3 linked regions of the Homo sapiens genome follow. The protein of the gene in region 2 interacts with the protein of the main gene of each other region in a pairwise test. Each region holds a gene or a part of one and is shown on either strand. Other genes may lie near its edges. The genes, in order: FAM124B, ZNF774 and BLK.

Evidence for each region.
Region 1: the proteins of ZNF774 (region 2) and FAM124B interact in binary tests that used the Homo sapiens proteins (3 or more experiments, as listed by UniProt).
Region 3: the proteins of ZNF774 (region 2) and BLK interact in binary tests that used the Homo sapiens proteins (3 or more experiments, as listed by UniProt).

The regions. Positions count from the first base shown.
Region 1 is NC_000002.12:224,395,393-224,399,142, forward strand, and holds part of FAM124B (protein FAM124B), read right to left. Parts: intron 1-3,750.
Region 2 is NC_000015.10:90,350,570-90,354,319, forward strand, and holds the start of ZNF774 (zinc finger protein 774), read left to right. Parts: upstream 1-1,714; 5' UTR 1,715-1,842; intron 1,843-3,750.
Region 3 is NC_000008.11:11,492,397-11,496,146, forward strand, and holds the start of BLK (tyrosine-protein kinase Blk), read left to right. Parts: upstream 1-1,990; 5' UTR 1,991-2,195; intron 2,196-3,750. UniProt on the Homo sapiens protein: Non-receptor tyrosine kinase involved in B-lymphocyte development, differentiation and signaling. B-cell receptor (BCR) signaling requires a tight regulation of several protein tyrosine kinases and phosphatases, and associated coreceptors.

The sequences.
Region 1 (3,750 bases), on a different chromosome or scaffold from region 2:
GAGGGCACAGTTTAAGTTGCAGGAGGTTTAAAAAAAGAGGCGGACATCATCACCCATGCTACCTTCCCCCAGAACACACTGACACTGTCACTACCACCAGAGGCAAAAGCACAGGGAGAAAAGCAGAGGGACTGTTTGAACGAATAAAGGGAAGGTTGAACCCACTATCATTTTGCACCCACTAAGAATTGAGACAGCAGAATTAAAACTGCCAAAGGAAAAACAATGTCTGGCCCAGAGCAAGAACTCAACAAAGTTCTGAGGAATGAATAAACATGGACTTGCCTTCTCATGTACTCATACATTCATTTACTGAACATCTATTTGATATGCTCATATCGCTGTCATCAAAACCACCCATTCTAGACTCTGAGAGGCATCAGACTGTCTGCAATGGCAAGAGGTCATGTGGAAAACGCATTGCTCACTGGGCGCGCTGGCAGAGACAGCTGACAGCCTCTCACATGCACAGATCACAATTGCACCGCAGTTACATGGTCTCCAGGAGCTTCTACTTTACCAAGCACCACCATGTACATTCTCTCATTTGACCCTCATAACACAAATAATCCATGTCAGTTCCATTCATAGGACTCATCAGTGACTGCTCATTTCACCAAGGATAGAATAGAAGCTACTTAGCCAGGGTTCATTTGTAGAAGGATGTTTTTGCCTACCATGTGCCAGACACTGACCTTAGGTTCTAGGTTCACAGGAGTGAGCCCAAAAAGTCCCCCCGCTCTTGGTACTTACATTCCAGTGGCTGACCACATTCCCACTGATCTAGCCTCAGGCCACCTGCCCATCCTCTTCCCCTGACTCCCCCTCCCTTCACTCCAGCCACATGAAACCTCAGGAAGTTTGCTGAGCATGGCCTGCTAAGCAGCACCACACCAACATCGTCACCCACGGTCACCTGTTTGAGACACCCTTGCTCCCTTCTCCAACTGGCTAATTCCTCCTGGGCCACCCAGCTCACGCAGATCTGGGCATTGCTACTCAGGAAAGCTTTCTCACTGCCCCTCCTCGGCCTAGCTCCCCTCACACTCAGGTCTTCTGCACACACGCCTCCATCCTGGCCATGTGGAGGGATGGTCTGCAGAGAGGTTAGTTTGTGGTTATGGTTCTTCCTTTAATAGGTATAATTTTCTTACTTTTGCTGAACATCAGCCATTTGGGACCACTCTGTATTTGTCTCCTCCGCCCTGATCTTCTCTGGAGACCCACAACCTTCCCTAAAAGTCCCACAGAACACCACACAGCATCTAGGGGTAGAAGCCAGAGCCTTTGCCTCGGGGCTAAACTGATCCATATAATCTCACTTTCCTGCACGTAATAATTGATTTAGAGAAGAGAATCTGATCCTAGTTGGTCTAACTGAAGTCCAGACATTTTGTTGCGCCATGGTGGGGCAAGGCACTTGGAATCCACATGAAGGATGTAACCCTCAGAGCTGCTAGCAGCCAGCTGGCGACCCTGGCGGATGCCTGGCTGAGGATAGGGCCAAGACAGTGATAACAGAGCTGGGATCTGGATCCTGAGCACACTGTGTAAGGCCTGGACTACTCACTTACAGAAGCCAGACTCGCTACCCAGCCCCTCTCCCCAGGACCCAAGGAAGTTTAGGCTGGATTTTCTTTTCTTTTCTTCTCTTCTCTCCTCTTTTCTTCTTTTCGAAACAGAGTGATATGGTTTGGCTGTGTCCTCACCCAAATTTCATATTGAATTATAACTGCCACAATTCCCATGTGTCGTGGGAGGAACCCAGTGGGAGGTGATTGAATTATGGGAGTGGGTCTTTCCTGTGCTGTTCTCGTGATAGAGAATGAGTCTCATGAGATCTGATGGTTTTAAAGATGAGAGTTCTCTGCACAAGCCCTCTCTTTGCCACCTACTGCTATCCATGTAAGATGTGACTTGCTCCTCTTTGCCTTCCGCCATGATTTTGAGGCCTCCCCAGCCACATGGAACTATGAGTTCATTAAACCTCTTCTTTTGTAAATTGCCCAGTCTCGGGTATGTCTTTATCAGCAGCGTGAAAACAAACTAATAGAGTAAATTGGTATCAGTAGAGTGGGGCATTGCTGAACAGATACCTGAAAATGTGGAAGCGACTTTGGAACTGGGTAACAGGCAGAGGTTGGAACAGTCTGGAGGGCTCAGAAGACAGGAAAATGTGGGAAAGTTTGGAACTTCCTAGAGATTTGTTGAATGACTTTGACAAAAATGCTGATAGTGATATGAACAATAAGGTCTAGGCTGAGGTGGTCTTAGATGGAGATGAGGAGCTTATTGGGAACTGGAACAAAGGTGACTCTCATTATGTTTTAGCAAAGAAACTGGCGGCATTTTGCCCCTGCCCTAGAGATTTGTGGAACTTTGAACTTGAGGGAGATGATTTAGGGTATCTGGCAGAAGAAATTTTTAAGCAGCAAAGCATTCAAGAGGTGACTGGGGTGCTATTTAAGGCATGAGTGAACAGTGAATTAATTCACTCATAGTAAATGAGTCTCCCAATATCTGATGGTTTTAAAAACAAGAGTTTTCTGCACAAGCTCTCTTTGTCTGCCGCCATCCATGTAAGATGCGACTGCTCCTCCTTGCCTTCTGCATGATTGTGAGGCTTCCCAAGCCACGTGGAACTGTGAGTCCAATTAAACCTCTTTCTTTTGTAAATTTCCCAGTCTCCAGCCTGTCTTTATCAGCAGTGTGAAACAGACTAATACACAGAGTCTTGCTCTGTCATCTAGGCTGGAGTTCACTGGCACAATCTCGGCTCACTGCATCCTCTGCCTCCCTGGTTCAAGCGATTCTCCTGCTTCAGCCTCCCGAGTAGCTGGGACTACGGGTGCACACCATCATGCCCAGCTAGTTTTTGTATTTTCAGTAGACAGGGGGATTTACCATGTTGGCCAGGCTGGTCTCAAGCTCCTGGCCTCAAGTGATCCACCTGCCTCAGCCTCCCAAAGTGCTAGTATTACAGGCCTGAGCCACCACGCCCAAGAATTTTCTATCCTGAAAAATTCACTCCATTCAAAGAATCAAAAGCTATCTAGGAGCTACAATGTGTTGTCTTTGGATTATGGCTGAGCCTTTACACACTTTCCTCAGGCACTTTTATTATATGACACCAGAAGCAGAATTTTCCAGAAGGCGATCTCTCACTCTGTTTGCAAAAGCTTAGACTCATTGACTTAACAAGAGGAGATCAAAGCGTGTTTTGGAGTGAGGAAGCAGAAGTCTCTGAGGTTTGGAGGTCAGGACAAAGGTGATGTCCAAGGGGGCTATCAAGAGTGAGAGGCAGCTGGGCGTGGTAGCTCATGCCTATAATCCCAGCACTTTGGGAGGCTGAGGCAGGTGGTCACTTGAGGCCAGATGTTTGAGACCAGCCTGGGCAACATAGTGAAACCCCATCTCCACTAAAAATACAAAAATTAGCTGGGCATGTTGGCAGGCACCTGTAGTCTCAGCCACTTGGGAAAGCTGAGGCACAAGAATTGCTTGAACCCGGGAGGCAGAGGTTGCAGTGAGCTGAGATCACACCATTGCACTCCAGCCTGAGCAACAGAGAGAGACTCTGTCTCAAAAACAAAAGAGTGAGGGGCTGATGCCCCATTCACACCTGAGAAGTGGCCAGGCTCCTGGGACAATCCAGAGAGGAAGAGGGCTCTTTTCATACAATTCATGGAGTTTCTCTTTATCCAAAAAACTCTTCTACACTCCCCAAATGTGACTCAACTTTCCAAAGTA
Region 2 (3,750 bases):
AATTACTTAGGATTTTGATACCTTTTATGGTTTATTTCCCCTTTTGGCCTGTGAACTTCATGAAGGTAATGGTTATGTATGATTCCCGAGTAATCACAGTTCCCAGAACGATCTTTTTTTTTTTTCTTTCTTTTTTTCTTTTTTGAGACGGAGTCTTGCTCTGTCGCTCAGGATGGAGTCCAGTGGCGCGATCTCGGCTCACTGCAAGCTCCACCTCCCGGGTTCACATCATTCTCCTGCCTCAGCCTCCCGAGTAGCTGGGACTACAGGCGCCCGCCACCACGCCCGGCTAATTTTTTCTATATTTAGTAGAGACGGGGTTTCACCATGTTAGCCAGGATGGTCTCGATCTCCTGACCTCGTGATCCTCCCGCCTCGGCCTCCCAAAGTGCTGGGATTACAGGCGTGAGCCACCACGCCCTGCCCCCAGAACGATCTTGAGAACAGAATGTTCCCAATAAATATCCACTGGAAAATGCACCTTATTTTTGTTGAAGGAATGGTGGAATTAGCATCAAAGGGATCTTCAACATTAACTCGGGCCGGGCACGGTGGCTCACGCCTGTAATCCCAGCACTTTAGGAAGCCGAGGCGGGCGGATCACGAGGTCAGGAGATGGAGATCATCCTGGCTAACATGGTGAAACCCCGTCTCTACTAAAAATACAAAAAATTAGCCGGGTGTGGTGGCGGGCGCCTGTAGTCCCAGCTACTCGGGAGGCTAAGGCAGGAGAATGGTGTGAACCTGGGAGGCAGAACTCGCAGTGAGCCGAGATCGTGCCACTGCACTCTAGCCTGGGCGACAGAGCGAGACTCCGTCTAAAAAAAAAAAAAAAAAAAAACTCTATGGCTGGTAATTCTAAGCGTTTTATAATACATCACAAAATGTTCTTTTATTTTTCTAAATTGCACTGAATCAACAAACGGAGTAGACAGGCACATTTTCTTCACTTTAAGGAAAGACTTTGTTGTTTTTTAGCTAGGGGCCGACCCAAAGTGATCACTGGCTCTCACATGAGACCCAGGAGCCTCCCCAGTTTGAAGCCCGATATCACATTTCCCAGAATACTTGATGCCCTCGCCCGCCTCCTCTGGCTATCAACCAGACGGAAAGGGGATGTGCCTGGGAGTTTGATGCCAAGGGAAGGATGCGGAATGTCTGTTTTCTACTAAGGGCTTCTGCTGGGCCTTTCCAATGTCCAGTTTGAGTTGGTCTGGGACCTGGCCTCCGCAAACACCCTGCAGGCTCCGGCCGCCGGGGATGAGGTGGAAGACTGGGCAGAAGAGAGGCCGCAAAGGCCCGAGGGCTGAGCTGCTCTGCGCTGGGGAGGGGCGAAGTGCCAGAGCGCGGGAGACCTCATGGTGGGCACCAGGCTGCTCCGCGGTAGGTGGGTGAGGCCAGGAGATTCACATCTGCAGATGCCACAGTGAGGATACAGCATTTAGATCCCTCGGCTCCAAACAGGCGGTTCCGGGGGACCGGTAGCTGGGGAATTGGGTTTAGCACTTTCCAACGCTTGGAACTGGACATCCACGGCTCCGAGTCCTTTGAGGTCTTGCTCGGGACTACGTTTCCCAGAAGGCTAGGCGATAATTGACAGCTCTATCAGCCTATGGACAGAGAAAAATTCTAGCCATGGAAACTGAAAAGCCAATAGCAAGAGGATGGGGGCGGTACTTTCCGGCCGCTGGCTGTCGAAGCCGGAGTCCCACCTGTGTCCCCACAGCCCTGTCACGAATCCCGGTCGGGTTCTGGGAGGCACAGCCTCGGGGTTGCGGGCCGGGTGCGGCTCGGCGGTGGAGGACTCACTTCCTGCTCCATCCCCGGCTGGGCCCTGGGGCGGTGAGTGATTCAAGGAGGGAGACCGCGGCGGCAGCGGCGCGCTGCTGAGGGGCGTGGAGGGGGCTTGCCCGCCACCCAGACGTTTTCTCAGCGGGGTTCCCGCGCTGGCCTTTGGGAGCCCCCGGGTCTTGCTGGGCTGTGGGAGAGGTAGCTGTGGTCTCTATACCGTCGGCGGGATAAGTCATTCTCTTAATCAGTTTTCTTGCTTCTCGATGGTGGTCCCAGGGTTTCAGCTGATCTGTGACCCTCTGACCGCCGCACCCCGGTTAGGGCGCGAGCACCGAGAAGAAGAACGGGGTTCGGCCCCACGCGTGCAGTCATGTTCCTATTAATAAACCCGGTGAACGCACTGGAGCTTCTCACAGTGGCACTTAGTCACAGCCCCTCAGCGCTGTGGGGCCTTTGAGGTCACCTGTGCATGGGGAAAGGGACGGGCTGGGAAACAGGGTTTCTATAACCGTGGCTAAGACGTCTCCCCTCCTCAGTGGCGCTGTCTCCAGCAAGTGGGCCCTGCAGCTGTGTTTTGTAATGAATGTAGAAATAAAAATTATACTCAAAACTCTTTTTTTTTTTTAGACGGAATTTCGCTCTTGTTGCCCAGGCTGGAATGCAATGGCGCTATCTCCTTTCACTGCAGTCTCCACCTCCCGGGTTCAGGCGATTCTCCTGCCTCAGCCTCCCAAGTAGTTGGGATTACAGGCGTGTGCCACCACACCCGGCTAATTTTGTATTCTTAGTAGAGACAGGGTTTCACCATGTTGGCCAGGCTGATCTCGAACTCCTGACCCCAGGTGATCCGCCCGTCTCGTCTTCCCAAAGTGCTGGGATTACAGTCATGAGCCACAGCACCTGGCCAATACTGAAAACTCTTATTACAATTTTTACTTTCTAATTACATTATTGTTGTTTGTTAAAGTTTTAAACCAGAGAGATGGTTTTTAGATCCTTAAAAACTCAATACTTTATAAATGACCAATAATAATGTCTGTAAATACAAAAATATTTCCCCCAAAAGTGTGTGTGTGTGTGTGTGTGTGTGTGTGTGTGTGTGTGTGTTCCAGTAGTAAATAGGTGATTTGTAGTGGGACAAAAGATGTGAAAGAGTAAAACTTCTTCACCACAGTCTGGTCCTTCCTCCCTTGAAATGCAATATTCTTTGTAGTGGGTGGTCATGCTGGCTGCATTTTTTTTTTTTTTAAGGGAGAGACAGGGGCTCACTCTGTTGCTAGGCTGGGGTGCAGTGGCGCCATCATAGCTCACTGCAGCCTGGAACTCCTGGGCTGAAGTGATCCTCCCACTTCAGCCTCCTGAGTAGCTGGGACCACAAGTGCATGCCACCATGCCTGGCTGATTTTTAAAAGTTCTTTGTAGAGAAAGAGGTCTCAATATGTTGCTGAGGCTGGTTTATTGGAAACTTTTTAAGGGAAAAAACATTATCTTAATTTCTATGTGACTCCTATGCCTGGCAACATATTAATTGTTGAATAAATGACTGATCCATCCAGTAATTCACTCTTGACTATCCTCCAAAAAGTAATGTTTTTCATGATATTGCTGTCGATTTATTAATATATTAATGATTGGTTTCAGCCCCTAAGAGTTGTGTTTTGTGCTTATTCCCACTTTCACTTATTTTTACAACCTATCCATGTCTTCTTTTTTTTAAAAAAAAAATGTCTTTTTCAGTCTTATTTCTGACTCCATTAAGATCTTGAAATAGAATGGTATCCAACACAGTTCCCTTTGGGGTTCTGTATAATCTGTCCCTTGAGGTTGACACCAAATCTGCAAGCCAAGAAGTTAGCTGCTCCCATAACTAATATGAGTATAGTTAAGGCCACAATTTCCTTGCTTGCTGAGGAAAATGAAGTTGGGGAGAATCAAAAGCTTTCCAGAAATCAAATTACA
Region 3 (3,750 bases), on a different chromosome or scaffold from region 2:
CCAGCACACCTCCCTGCAAACTCTCACATCCCCTCCCACTCTAACCTTGGGTAGACAGACCATGTATTTTCTTTGTAGGATGCTGGGTTTCCTGCTCTCCACTACATTCTCTATACCCTCAAGTCCAAGTATATAAAAGTTGTCCAAACGTCAGCTATTTAGGCCCTATTGAAAAAATGTTAGAGGCGGTTCAGGCAGCGTCACAACATCCTGGTTCAGTAAAAGACTCAGCCTAGGGATCTGTCTCTGAGAGTCTGTAGGAGTCTTAGTCACGAATCATGTTCAAAGCCTTCTCCTTGGCAGCTTCCCCCAGTGACCCCTGATAGAATTATTGCCTCCGCCTCTGGTCTAGCACTGTGCCCCGTTGAGGCCTCTGTGGCTACATCTACTACGCTCCACTGCAGTGATCTGCTTATCAGGCCCCTTCTCCAAGCTCCTTAGGCTGAGACTCTCAGAGGAGGATGGAGTGTAGCTGCGTTGGTATCCCCAGCCTCCAGCAGGTGCTTAGCACAGAGCAGGTGTTCAGAAAAACAGTGCTGCATTAATTGAATTGAAATAGGAAGACTAAGTTACCTCATCTCAAATCAGTCACTTTTTAAATCAGAAGCTCGCAGAGTTTGGAACTCATGTTTCATGTTTGGATCCATGTAGTAGGTATCAGGAAGTGAATGTAAGAGTAAATTAACAGGAGCTGCCATGGACTGAGCAGGCCCAGGGTTCTGGACATTGTTGTGAGCCCTCTGCTACCACGTGGAGAAGATCAGCTTTGGGATTTAAAGCAATTAGCCACATTCACATCAGCTTCCAGGTATTTGCAGTTTATTATGTGCTAAATACTGTAATAGATACTTTTTATGCATGAATCCATTTATTCTCACAAAACCCCTTGGGGAAGTGAAACAGATTATTTCCATAGTGTCTTAAAACCCCAGAACTCTGCGTTGCTGCGTCTATTGACATGAACACCTGTCAAACCTGCAACTCATAGCTCAGTATTGTCTCAGTCCAATCCAAGGAAATGAACTCCTTGAGAAAGCTGACATTCTGGACCATGGGGTAGAAGCTACCCTGTCTGCCTCCCACACCCACTCTCAAGGATCCAAGACTATGAAGGGAGAAGAGAGAGCCCACCGAGTGACTTCCTCTTATAAGCCAATATCAAGACACTAGTGGAAAGGAACCAGCTGACCAGTGGCTCACTGTGTCTGGCTGGACCAGCAAGACTCTGACGTCATCACAGAAGCCTTCTTGGTCCCATTGGTCCTTTGACTGCTGTGTACAGGATGCCACCCACCACTCCAGACACCACTCACCACTCTAGATGTTGGGATCCTTCTCCCGTTACCTCCATTATTCTTGTTCTCTACTCCTCTGAGTTTTCATAGCCAAGCAAATTTCCACCATTGAAGAGGCTCTGAGATCCAAGTCAACTAACTACTGGCTAGGGTACTGTAAAACACATGGGAAATTAGCTTTTACCAAACACCAATTCTATGCCCACCATTCATACCCATTCTACCATTTAATGCTGATAGTATCCTGTGAGCTAGCTATTATTAGCATCATTTAAAGACAAAGCAAAACCAGTGAGGCTGAAAGAACGGCTGCCCTGGTGCACACAGATGGCACATGGCAGAGCCCAAGCCCTCTCCATGAGATCTGCAGCGTTTGTCCACACGGCAGGGCAAATTACCTTGTAGAGTCAGCATGGAGGTTTGCTAACTCTGCCGGACTTGGTGCAGAAAAAATACCAGCCGTGCTGTTAAACCAAAACCCCAGGAGAAAACTTTCTGGTGACAGAAGGGCATTGTGACCCACGTTGCCCAGGGCCAGGGACAGGGCAGCTGCTCATGGTCCTTCCTCACGAGTTTTCCTGGAGCAGAGGGATACCCCCAAACCCAGGGAGCCCACAGGAGCTTCAGAAGGGCTCGGCTGGAGGGCGGGGCCCCTGTTGCACTTGCTCACTGGGGACTGGGGAGGCTCTGATCGCAGACCGGGGGTGCTGCCACCTCTGTCTGCTGCCGGCAGAAAGCCACAAGCCATGAAAACTGATTGAGATGAGAAGAATTCATCTGGGACTGGCTTTTGCTTTAGGATGGTGTTGGAAGTTGCTCGTTGTCGCTAGGAGCCTGCTCCACTGTAAGGGTGTCAGGATCTGAAGAGCTATGGTGAAACACCACTGAAGCATTGCCAAGGTGAGGCCCTGCGTCTTCCGGGTTCTTTATCGTCTTCCTTTAAATTGTGCAAATGGTGCTGTAAGGCCTGTAGTGGGGCAAGCAAGCAAGGACATTGCTGTGGGTGCCACAGACGGAGGAAGAGGCATGAATGGATCGCTGCCTCAGCTATGAATAGATTGCTCCATGGTTTGTGCATTTCCAGTTTTGAGAATTTTTAATTTATAAAAGGTCATCCATCCAGGGTAGATTCTGCTTTTTGGAAAAGGCAGTGAATGTGCCACAGAGGAGAGAAGGGACGTGGGATGTAGAGAGGGGGTTGAGCGGGCACACACAGGCCACTGCTGCGCTCCCGGCGAGTCACTCGGCCTCTTGATAGGAGGTGATATTGACTGTGCAGAGCTGACAGAGGTTAGTGGTCACAGGCGGGGAGCATCTGGCTCAAGGCAAATGACTGTTGCTTTCGTTTTATTTGTTTGTTTCTGAATGAAGTTGTTCCATTTTTCAGGCATTCAGGAATGGGGTAACTGAATAGATGTAATGATGATCTTCTTGTTTAAGAGATCTATTTCACCAGGAAACACCAACTGTGAAAAGGAAAGCATAGTTGATCACATATTTTGAAAGGATTTGTGTAAATTGTAAGGTTTTGACAACGTTTCCATTTATCTGGTAATGCGGGTGGATGAAGTTCACCCTCATCCACCCACATTACCAAGGAACTAAGGAATTGTGCGTTTGCAGTAACAGAAGAAATTGCTGTGATATGTGCATATCCTCCTCCCTCGGGAGAGTGGGACTTAATTCCCCTCACCTTGAGTGAGGTTTGGACTAAGAGTATGGAAAGGGAGAAATAGTAGCTCTGTAGAGGAGAAACCTGCAGATGCCAGCTTCACCAAGGGACCAAGCTTAGCATCACCGGGAATAAGCTGGGCTGCTATTGTGAACTGCCACGACAGTGCGGTTCTTCCCACCAACTCATAACCCCAGTCAAATCATGAGAAAACATCAGACAAATCCAAACTGGGGAAGATTCCACAACATATTTCACCTTCAAAAATGTCAAGGTCATGAAAAACAAAGAAAGACAGGCAAAGCGTCACAGATCAGAGGAGACATGATGGTCAGGACACCCAAACCCAGAATTCGCATCCTGTATTGGATCCTAAAGCAACACCGCAAAGGTCATTAGTGGAAAAATAGGTGAAATTTTAACAAGACCTGGGGTCTCGCTAATATTGTGGTAACAATTACTGCTTAGTTCTGGCAAATGTACCATGGTTACGTAAGGTGTTCACATTAGAAGAACCTGGTGAAGGAAATATGGAAATTCTCTGTGCTATCCCTTGTAATTTTTCTCCAAATCTAAAATTACTGCAAAATAAAGAGTTAAAAAAAATTAGACTCATTCTTCCTCAGAGCAGGAGTAGCCAAATCCTGAGCATTCTTGGGAAAACTGGCGTTCATGGCCTGGTGATCACACCTTCTCTTTGAACATTCTGGAATATAGCAGGCCTTTTGAATTTTTGACCATCCATCATTCTCTCTCCCAACCCCTACCTGATTCCAGAATAGC